Linked DNA regions of Homo sapiens. The protein of the gene in region 1 interacts with the protein of each later gene in a pairwise test. Each region holds a gene or a part of one and is shown in the gene's direction. Other genes may lie near its edges. The genes, in order: GLRX3, ZBTB44 and CA9.

The links.
Region 2: the proteins of GLRX3 (region 1) and ZBTB44 interact in binary tests that used the Homo sapiens proteins (3 or more experiments, as listed by UniProt).
Region 3: the proteins of GLRX3 (region 1) and CA9 interact in binary tests that used the Homo sapiens proteins (3 or more experiments, as listed by UniProt).

The regions. Positions count from the first base shown.
Region 1 is NC_000010.11:130,167,261-130,170,912, forward strand, and holds part of GLRX3 (glutaredoxin-3), read left to right. Parts: intron 1-2,172; coding exon 2,173-2,230; intron 2,231-3,652. UniProt on the Homo sapiens protein: Together with BOLA2, acts as a cytosolic iron-sulfur (Fe-S) cluster assembly factor that facilitates [2Fe-2S] cluster insertion into a subset of cytosolic proteins.
Region 2 is NC_000011.10:130,255,880-130,259,531, reverse strand, and holds part of ZBTB44 (zinc finger and BTB domain-containing protein 44), read left to right. Parts: intron 1-3,652. UniProt on the Homo sapiens protein: May be involved in transcriptional regulation.
Region 3 is NC_000009.12:35,672,294-35,676,045, forward strand, and holds the start of CA9 (carbonic anhydrase 9 precursor), read left to right. Parts: upstream 1-1,634; 5' UTR 1,635-1,666; coding exon 1,667-2,069; intron 2,070-3,244; coding exon 3,245-3,274; intron 3,275-3,467; coding exon 3,468-3,638; intron 3,639-3,752. UniProt on the Homo sapiens protein: Catalyzes the interconversion between carbon dioxide and water and the dissociated ions of carbonic acid (i.e. bicarbonate and hydrogen ions).

The DNA.
Region 1 (3,652 bases):
TTCAGAGCCAGGGTCCAGTTGTTTTGTCACTGCTCCTTGGCGTAACCTCAGCACACTCGTGTTTTACTGGGTGCAGCCTTGGTGACTGCTGCGGGTGCTGCCCCAACGCCAGAGCACTGAGTGACAAGTGGTGAGTGTGAAAAACTCATCACCTCGCAACAAGCTTTGAGCACTTCTCATGGCCTTTCTAGACCACGAGAACTTACATGAACAGATTTTGGAGGTGTGAAACATGTATTTGTTTTATCAAGGATCTCACTTGGCTTTTAGAGACGTTCTCTTACAGAAATGTTGGACTTTGGTGTGTAAGGCAACTTAATGGGATTTTTATTGCAGTAAAATTAATATAGAACTTTAAAAAGGAATTTATTATATCAGCAATCAGCCATTCATAGTTGGGGCTGGAGATTGTAAGATAAACCTTCCTTTGGTAATTTTTTTTTGCCATGTAACATCTTGAGAATTTCTAAAAGTGTTTAATAATAATAAATACCTCATTTGTCTGTCGTTAATTAATAATTTCTATAAACAGCGTCCAATCCACGTATGTCAGGCTGATCTTTGAGTGCCGCATTCTGTCCTGTGGTTGGTACCATTTCCTGTGTTCTTCATGAGAAAATGATACTCCTCATCCCTTTTTTGACTCTGGGCGTCTTCATGTGTGGTTCTTGCCTGTAGCCTGGTGATGCCCTTGGCCCATGGAGGCTGTGTGGTCTCCAAAGACAGCTGTGTTTTTTATATGCTTGTATTTGCTCTTCAGTTGATTTTCCTTCTCTGCTGAGTGCACTTGCCGCTGTTAATGGCCTTGTCTCCATCAGACCTCCGTTTCCTAATGTGCTGCTTCTAAATCTGTGCTTGCAGACACCAAAGGGTAACGGGCTAGAATTATGTCGGAAGGAAAATTCAGCATATTTGGAGTAATAATTTAAAGGGCTCCGAGTGAGCAGAGTGTAGGAAGTGGAGTTCATGGACTTGTGACATGTATTTTGGCAGTACTTTGTGAGCTGTGGTTCCCTGTATCCAGGTGACTGGGTTAGTTAGTTGGGTTGTCAGGGTCAGCATTGTATTCCTATATCTGTTCATATTTTTCTGAACTTGAGCTAATCCCACTCGGTTGGCAATGTAAGTGATACAGCTTTGTGCGTGATTGATGCATTTCATTTGGGATGAGTTTATAAGGATATTTATTATTATTTTTTTTTGAGACGGACTCTGGCTCTGTAGCCCAGGCTGGAGTGCAGTGGTGCTATCTTGGCTCACTGCAAGCTCCGCCTCCCGGGTTCACACCATTCTCCTGCCTCAGCCTCCCGGGTAGCCGTGACCACAGGCGTCCGCCACCACGTCCGGCTAATTCTTTTGTACTTTTTAGTGGAGACGGGGTTTCACCGTGTTTTGCCAGGATGGTCTTGATCTCCTGACCTCGTGATCCACCTGCCTCAGCCTCCCAAAGTGCTGGGATTACAGGCGTGAGCCACCGCGCCCAACCTCTAAGGAGATTTTTGAGCTGTGAATTGGGAGAACATGGTGGCGTGACCCCATGGGGCTTAGGTTCTTTAGTGACCCGTTGTCCCAGCACTGACTTTTCTTGAGATTTGTGACTAAACTTGTGGCTGTATACAGATAATTAAAATTCCTGACAGCATGTTAGATTATGATGTTTGAAAGACTATATAAAATATAAAACATGTTAAGATGAGAGAATTTGATTTTAGTATCTGGCATTAGTTGATGTTCTGAGGTTTAACGCTGTCACCCTGCAGTCCGACCTTGTGAGCTTTACACGTGTACAGTGGTATGCAGCATCATGATGGAAGATGGTGCACACAAGATCTAGTTCTGGAAGTTTTGGATGGGCTTAATATATAGGCCCCTTATTGAACAATTCCTTACTGAATTGGTTATTATTATTATTTTTTTATTACTGTGAGTTGATGGGCTTAAATTGCAACTTGAAGGAACATTCGTTGCCTTAAAAGCCATATTGTGTTTTACAGTGGCTTAGGGAGAGAATGAAATCAAGGAAAATGTCAACGCATTTGCTTGTTTAATACCACTCAAAGCTGTGAACTGTCATCCTGCCATCCCTCAAATATGCATGTTACTCACGAAGCGGAGGAAAAGTGGTGTTGCATAATTGAGCTGAGCCGTTTTATATCAATTTTCTCTCTTTAGGCTCAAAGTGCTGACAAATAAAGCTTCTGTGATGCTCTTTATGAAAGGAAACAAACAGGTAAAGAACTCAAAAATGGTTTTATTTGTAATTTCTTTTGATGTTAACATCTGCAACAAGGGGACAGTTAAATCTTTTTCCTAGCTTTAGCTAATGAAGCTGTAGCGATATCAGGAAGTTATCCACGCCTTAATTGGTGCTTACGGAGATCAAACAAAGTAATCTACATTTTGCTTGACTTTATCATCAACATCTCAGTGGGGTGCATTTCTTTCTGCTGCCAAACTTTGTCAGCTAATGTGGTCAACACTGTTAACACTTTACTGGTTGTATGAGTTGTTATGTCATTATCCTTTGTTTGAGTTTGTGGACTGCTGAAGTGTGCAGCTGAGTCAGTGGACTTCCTGAATGCAGGGAACCTGGTCGTGCTTGGGTTTGCACCCCTAGATCGTCCTTTTGTGACAGTGGAGGAGCAAACCCTGGCTGTAGCAGGTGTGCTCTGTGTGTTTGATGAATGAGTGAAATGGTCAGCAATTCTCATTTTTAATGGGATGGTTCTTACAGCTTTTTGATGTAAGTACATATTGATTATGCGTCATTTTGAATATCAAGTTTGATAGATTACTTCCACCGATAGTTTGAGCAGAACTAATTTTCTTTCAGATTGAGATCAGAGTGGTAATTTCCAGAAACCAGCCATACACATTTATATCATATTTTGTAATTTTCATAGCAATTGAACCTCTACTTAATTCTCAATCAGTTGTTGAAGTAGGCAGGGTTGGACAGACTTTGGCCTGTTTTAGAGATAAAGAAACCAAAGTTTTGAAAGGTGAGGCTGTTGGAATAAAGAAACTGCCTCACTTGTTAGCAAGATGCACCGGGCAAGTGACATGGAGAACCACTTTGCTCATTGGGAAAGGGACACAATACTTCACAGGGCAGACTCTGGTTGCCATAACTAGTGTATAAGTTAACATAACTAGTATAATGAAGCTAATTAGTTAACATAACTGGTTAATATAATTAGGTAATAATGAAAGTAACAGTAACAAAGAAAATGTTAATATAAATTTCAGCATGTTGGAAACATTAGGTTAGGGCCTAAATTCTTTGATTTTGGTTCAGTGTATTGAAACAATAGAGGAAGTTAATAATTCCTAGTAATGATAAAGTGACATTTTTTCTTATTCTCGGTAATGGTTTAAGTGGATATTTATTCTCAAAACTATTTTTTTCTGGAAACCTAGAAAGTATTAATACATTTTGGAAACAATGTTATTGGGGCTATTAAAATGTTGACATGGTACCATATCTTTTCCACAAGATTGCTGGAATTTGGAGTCCTGTGGCATGAAAAAAGCTTAAGATTTTCATAAACTCAAAAAAGTGTTAGTATTCTGTAATGTAAAAATAAATGAGGCTGGATGCGGTAGCTCATGCCTGTAATCCCAGCACTTTGGGAGGCCAAGGCAGGTCCGA
Region 2 (3,652 bases), on another chromosome or scaffold:
ATTGTGAATAGTGCCGCAGTAAACATATGTGCGCATGTGTCTTTATAGTAGAAAGATTTATAATCCTTTGGGTGTATACCCAGTAATGGGATGGCTGGGTCGAATGGTATTTCTGTTTCTAGATTCATGAGGAATCGCCACACTGTCTTCCACAATGGTTGAACTAGTTTACAGTCCCACCAACAGTGTAAAAGCATTTCCTATTTCTCCACATCCTCAACAGCATCTGTTGTTTCCAGACTTTTTAATGATCACCATTCTAACTGGTGTGAGATGGTATCTCATTAAATTTCCATATGAAATTTAAAGGAGTTTTTTCCAATTCCGTGAAGAAAGTCAATGGTAACTTGATGGGGATAGCACTGAATCTATAAATTACTTTGGGCAATATGGCCATTTTCACGATATTGATTCTTCCTATCCATGAGCATGGAATGTCTTCCCATTTATTTGTGTCCTCTCTTATTTTCTTGAGCAGTGGTTTGTAGTTCTTGAAGAGGTCTTTCACATCCCTTGTAAGTTATATTCCTAGGTATTTTATTCTCTTTGTAGTAATTGTGAATGGGAGTTCACTCGTGATTTGGCTCTCTGTTACTGGTGCACAGGAATGCTTGTGATTTTTTATCACAAAGTGTTCAGGAATAAAAGTCCAGGGCTGGTACAGTGAATCTGCAATATAATCAGTGGCCTAGGCAACTTGTATATTTATAAACTGCCATCTTTACTTTGTTGGTTTCATCCATAAGATGCTCATTTCATCTTCAGCTTTGTATTCTAGAAAGGGGCAATGCTTTGTATCAAGAAAGCACCTATGTTCTCAGAAATCCCTAAAAAACTTCTGCTAGTCTGTGTCACATAGTCTTTCCTAGCTGCAAGGGAATCTGGGAAGATAATGTATATTAGTTGGGTACCTAAATGCCTTGAACAAAATTAGAGCAAAATGGATATTGAGTATGCAACTAGCAGTGTCTGCCACAAGTAGGCCAAGTAAGCTTGGATTTTATCTTAGTGGTAGGTAGTAAGGAGTCTACATTAAAGGGATAAAAACAAAAACATGCAGATATTTTAGGAAAACTGTTATTGACATGCAGTGAGTTTGGTTTTACAGAGACAGTCTCAGAGACCAATTGCAGTGCACTTATCTTGGTGTGAATGAAGACTTAAAACCATGTGAAAGAAAATAGATATTACAAGACTTTGTAAAGAAAGACTTAGTACCTGATGATACTGAATATGTATATTGAAAGAACAGGAGAGGTTAAAGTACTCTGATGACTAGGAAATAATGGTAACACTTTATTATATTCCATTGATTCTAAGTCACAATTTTTCATATTTTGTTATTTCTGAATCCAGATATGTCTTACAGTTGGCAGTCTTCTACAGTTGCTTTTTTCTTCCTTAGTGCTATAGAGAATAATGGCAATCATATGAATCAATAGCATTTTAGCATCTATTAAATGTAGTTAGTGCCGTATGAAAATCAGTGGAAGGTGGTGGGAATCCAGTTTTGAGAGTAAATTATCAAGGTCACTTCTGTGTAAATTGTGCTTGGATGATGATCAAGCAGTGTCATTTCAAAAGCAGTAGAAAAGATAAGTGAGATTCCCAACTTGGGACTTTTCTACTAGTAGTGGCAAATTCAATCTCAATAGGAAAAACAGAAGAGCCAAAACCAAGGGGATACCTTGGGGAATACCTATATTCAGGTTTGGGAAGGGATAGAAGAAAAGCCACTAGTGAATAATAAAGATTTGTCCAAAATATTGGAGAACCGGGAAGACCATATTAACTTTGTTAGTTTCTTGTGCTTTTACCCTCTGTGTGAGTTTCCCTGGGCTGCTGCAACAAAGTACCGCAAACTGAATGGTTTAAAAAAAATTTATTCTCTCATAGTCAGAGGCCAGAAATCTGAACGACAGGTGTTAGTTCCCTTTGAAGGATCTTTCTCTCTTTGAAGATTGTAGGGAAGAATCCTTCCTTGTCTCTTCCAGCCTGTGGCAGCTGCCCACAATCCTTGGTGTTCTTTGGCTTGTAGCTCCAGTATATGATATTGTGCTTTAGTATATGCGTTCGTCTTCACATGACCTTCCCTGTCTCTCTGTTTTGCCACTGGCTTCAAATCTCTCTCTCCCTAAAAGGACACCAGTCATTGGATTCAGGTCCCACCCTAATCCAGCATGACCTCATCTTAACTTGATTACATCTGCTAAGACCCTATTTCCAAATAAGGTCACATACATTGGTAGCAAGGATTAAGATGTACTTTTTCTTTTTTTTTTTTTTTTTTTTTAAGATCTGGGATGCATGTGCTGAACATGCAAGTTGTGTTTTTGGGTATTTTATTTTCTTTGTAGCAATTATGAATGGAAGTTCACTCATGATTTGGCTCTCTGCTTGTCTATTACTGGTGTATAGGAACGCTTGTGATTTTTGCACATTGATTTTGTATCCCGAGACTTTGCTGAAGTTGTTTATCAGCTTGAGTTTTGGGGCAGAGACAGTGGGGTTTTCTAAATATACAATTATGTCATCTGCAAACAGAGACAATTTGACCTTCTCTCTTCTTATTTGAATACCCTTGACTTCCTCTCTTCCTATTTGAATACTCTTTCTTTCTCTTGCCTGATTGCTCTGGCCAGAACTTCCAGTACTGTGTTGAATAGGGGTGGTGAGAGAGAGCATCCTTGTCTTGTGCCGGTTTTCAAAGGGAATGCTTTCTGCTTTTACTCATTCGGTATGATACTGTCTATGGATTTGTCATAAATAGCTCTTAATATTTTGAGATATGTTCCATCAATACCTAGTTTATTCAGAGTTTTTAGCATGAAGGGGTGTTGAATTTTTATTTTTAATTTTTATTTATTTATTTATTTTTGAGACGGAGTCTCACTCTGTCACCAGGCTGGAGTGCAGTGGTGTGATCTCAGCTCATTCAAGCAATTCTTCTGCCTCAGCCTCCTGAGTAGCTGGGACTACAGACGCATGCCACCACACCCAGCTAATTTTTGTATTTTTAGTAGAGATGGGATTTCACCATGTTGGCCAGGATGGTCTCGATCTCTTGACCTCGTGATCCGCCTGCCTCGGCGTCCCAAAATGCTGGGATTACAGGCGTGAGCCACCACGCCCAGCCAGGGTGTTGAATTTTATTGAAGGCCTTTTCTGCGTCTATTGAGATAATCGTGGTTTTTGTCATTGGTTCTGTTTTACGTGATGGATTACGTTTATTGATCTGCGTGTGTTGAACCAGCCTTGCGTTCCAGGGATGAAGCCAACTCGATCCTGGTGGATAAGCTTTTTGATATTCTGCTGGATTCAGTTTGTCAGTATTTTATTGAGGACTTTCACATCAATGTTCATCAGGTATATTGGCCTGGTATTTTCTTTTTTTGTGTTGTGCCTCTGCCAGGTTTTGGAATCAGGATGTTGCTGACCTCATAAAATGAGTTAGGGAGGAGTCCCTCTTTTTCTGTTGTTAGGAATGGTACCAGCTTCTCTTCGTACCTTTGGTAGAATTCAGCTGTGAATCTGTCTGGTGAATCTGTCTGGTGCTGGGCTTTTTTTGGTTGGTAGGCTATTTCAGGAGAGTTTATAGCATGAAGGGGTGTTTTTTTTTTTTTTTTTTTTTTTGAGGTTTTGCCTCAACTTT
Region 3 (3,752 bases), on another chromosome or scaffold:
GCCGAGATCGCGCCACTTCACTCCAGCCTGGGTAGCAGAGTGCGACTCTGTCTCAAAAAAAAAAAAAAAGAAAGAAAAGAAAAGAAAAAGAAAAGAAAAGAAAAAAACTGGGAGGCCTAAGCCCATTCTTGGTGTCCTCACACTCTTCTGCCCCATCTCCTTGCACCCAGTCTTCCCCTGCAATCTGTGCTCCATACTAGCCCTCAAGCCCTCAACGTGACCTAGTATGAGAACTGGATTCTGTCACTCTCCTGCTCATAATATTTTATGCCTTCCCTTTGCCCAGAATATCATTCTCCCTATTGTTTTTACCAATGGAACTGGTATTTCTTCAAGGACATGATCAAATTTGCCTACTTCTATATTATCTTCTAAAGCAGAATTCATCTCTCTTCCCTCAATATGATGATATTGACAGGGTTTGCCCTCACTCACTAGATTGTGAGCTGCTCAGGGCAGGTAGCGTTTTTTGTTTTTGTTTTTGTTTTTCTTTTTTGAGACAGGGTCTTGCTCTGTCACCCAGGCCAGAGTGCAATGGTACAGTCTCAGCTCACTGCAGCCTCAACCGCCTCGGCTCAAACCATCATCCCATTTCAGCCTCCTGAGTAGCTGGGACTACAGGCACATGCCATTACACCTGGCTAATTTTTTTGTATTTCTAGTAGAGACAGGGTTTGGCCATGTTGCCCGGGCTGGTCTCGAACTCCTGGACTCAAGCAATCCACCCACCTCAGCCTCCCAAAATGAGGGACCGTGTCTTATTCATTTCCATGTCCCTAGTCCATAGCCCAGTGCTGGACCTATGGTAGTACTAAATAAATATTTGTTGAATGCAATAGTAAATAGCATTTCAGGGAGCAAGAACTAGATTAACAAAGGTGGTAAAAGGTTTGGAGAAAAAAATAATAGTTTAATTTGGCTAGAGTATGAGGGAGAGTAGTAGGAGACAAGATGGAAAGGTCTCTTGGGCAAGGTTTTGAAGGAAGTTGGAAGTCAGAAGTACACAATGTGCATATCGTGGCAGGCAGTGGGGAGCCAATGAAGGCTTTTGAGCAGGAGAGTAATGTGTTGAAAAATAAATATAGGTTAAACCTATCAGAGCCCCTCTGACACATACACTTGCTTTTCATTCAAGCTCAAGTTTGTCTCCCACATACCCATTACTTAACTCACCCTCGGGCTCCCCTAGCAGCCTGCCCTACCTCTTTACCTGCTTCCTGGTGGAGTCAGGGATGTATACATGAGCTGCTTTCCCTCTCAGCCAGAGGACATGGGGGCCCCAGCTCCCCTGCCTTTCCCCTTCTGTGCCTGGAGCTGGGAAGCAGGCCAGGGTTAGCTGAGGCTGGCTGGCAAGCAGCTGGGTGGTGCCAGGGAGAGCCTGCATAGTGCCAGGTGGTGCCTTGGGTTCCAAGCTGAGTCCATGGCCCCGATAACCTTCTGCCTGTGCACACACCTGCCCCTCACTCCACCCCCATCCTAGCTTTGGTATGGGGGAGAGGGCACAGGGCCAGACAAACCTGTGAGACTTTGGCTCCATCTCTGCAAAAGGGCGCTCTGTGAGTCAGCCTGCTCCCCTCCAGGCTTGCTCCTCCCCCACCCAGCTCTCGTTTCCAATGCACGTACAGCCCGTACACACCGTGTGCTGGGACACCCCACAGTCAGCCGCATGGCTCCCCTGTGCCCCAGCCCCTGGCTCCCTCTGTTGATCCCGGCCCCTGCTCCAGGCCTCACTGTGCAACTGCTGCTGTCACTGCTGCTTCTGGTGCCTGTCCATCCCCAGAGGTTGCCCCGGATGCAGGAGGATTCCCCCTTGGGAGGAGGCTCTTCTGGGGAAGATGACCCACTGGGCGAGGAGGATCTGCCCAGTGAAGAGGATTCACCCAGAGAGGAGGATCCACCCGGAGAGGAGGATCTACCTGGAGAGGAGGATCTACCTGGAGAGGAGGATCTACCTGAAGTTAAGCCTAAATCAGAAGAAGAGGGCTCCCTGAAGTTAGAGGATCTACCTACTGTTGAGGCTCCTGGAGATCCTCAAGAACCCCAGAATAATGCCCACAGGGACAAAGAAGGTAAGTGGTCATCAATCTCCAAATCCAGGTTCCAGGAGGTTCATGACTCCCCTCCCATACCCCAGCCTAGGCTCTGTTCACTCAGGGAAGGAGGGGAGACTGTACTCCCCACAGAAGCCCTTCCAGAGGTCCCATACCAATATCCCCATCCCCACTCTCGGAGGTAGAAAGGGACAGATGTGGAGAGAAAATAAAAAGGGTGCAAAAGGAGAGAGGTGAGCTGGATGAGATGGGAGAGAAGGGGGAGGCTGGAGAAGAGAAAGGGATGAGAACTGCAGATGAGAGAAAAAATGTGCAGACAGAGGAAAAAAATAGGTGGAGAAGGAGAGTCAGAGAGTTTGAGGGGAAGAGAAAAGGAAAGCTTGGGAGGTGAAGTGGGTACCAGAGACAAGCAAGAAGAGCTGGTAGAAGTCATCTCATCTTAGGCTACAATGAGGAAATTGAGACCTAGGAAGAAGGGACACAGCAGGTAGAGAAACGTGGCTTCTTGACTCCCAAGCCAGGAATTTGGGGAAAGGGGTTGGAGACCATACAAGGCAGAGGGATGAGTGGGGAGAAGAAAGAAGGGAGAAAGGAAAGATGGTGTACTCACTCATTTGGGACTCAGGACTGAAGTGCCCACTCACTTTTTTTTTTTTTTTTTTTGAGACAAACTTTCACTTTTGTTGCCCAGGCTGGAGTGCAATGGCGCGATCTCGGCTCACTGCAACCTCCACCTCCCGGGTTCAAGTGATTCTCCTGCCTCAGCCTCTAGCCAAGTAGCTGCGATTACAGGCATGCGCCACCACGCCCGGCTAATTTTTGTATTTTTAGTAGAGACGGGGTTTCGCCATGTTGGTCAGGCTGGTCTCGAACTCCTGATCTCAGGTGATCCAACCACCCTGGCCTCCCAAAGTGCTGGGATTATAGGCGTGAGCCACAGCGCCTGGCCTGAAGCAGCCACTCACTTTTACAGACCCTAAGACAATGATTGCAAGCTGGTAGGATTGCTGTTTGGCCCACCCAGCTGCGGTGTTGAGTTTGGGTGCGGTCTCCTGTGCTTTGCACCTGGCCCGCTTAAGGCATTTGTTACCCGTAATGCTCCTGTAAGGCATCTGCGTTTGTGACATCGTTTTGGTCGCCAGGAAGGGATTGGGGCTCTAAGCTTGAGCGGTTCATCCTTTTCATTTATACAGGGGATGACCAGAGTCATTGGCGCTATGGAGGTGAGACACCCACCCGCTGCACAGACCCAATCTGGGAACCCAGCTCTGTGGATCTCCCCTACAGCCGTCCCTGAACACTGGTCCCGGGCGTCCCACCCGCCGCCCACCGTCCCACCCCCTCACCTTTTCTACCCGGGTTCCCTAAGTTCCTGACCTAGGCGTCAGACTTCCTCACTATACTCTCCCACCCCAGGCGACCCGCCCTGGCCCCGGGTGTCCCCAGCCTGCGCGGGCCGCTTCCAGTCCCCGGTGGATATCCGCCCCCAGCTCGCCGCCTTCTGCCCGGCCCTGCGCCCCCTGGAACTCCTGGGCTTCCAGCTCCCGCCGCTCCCAGAACTGCGCCTGCGCAACAATGGCCACAGTGGTGAGGGGGTCTCCCCGCCGAGACTTGGGGATGGGGCGGGGCGCAGGGAAGGGAACCGTCGCGGCAGTGCCTGCCCGGGGGTTGGGCTGGCCCTACCGGGCGGGGCCGGCTCAC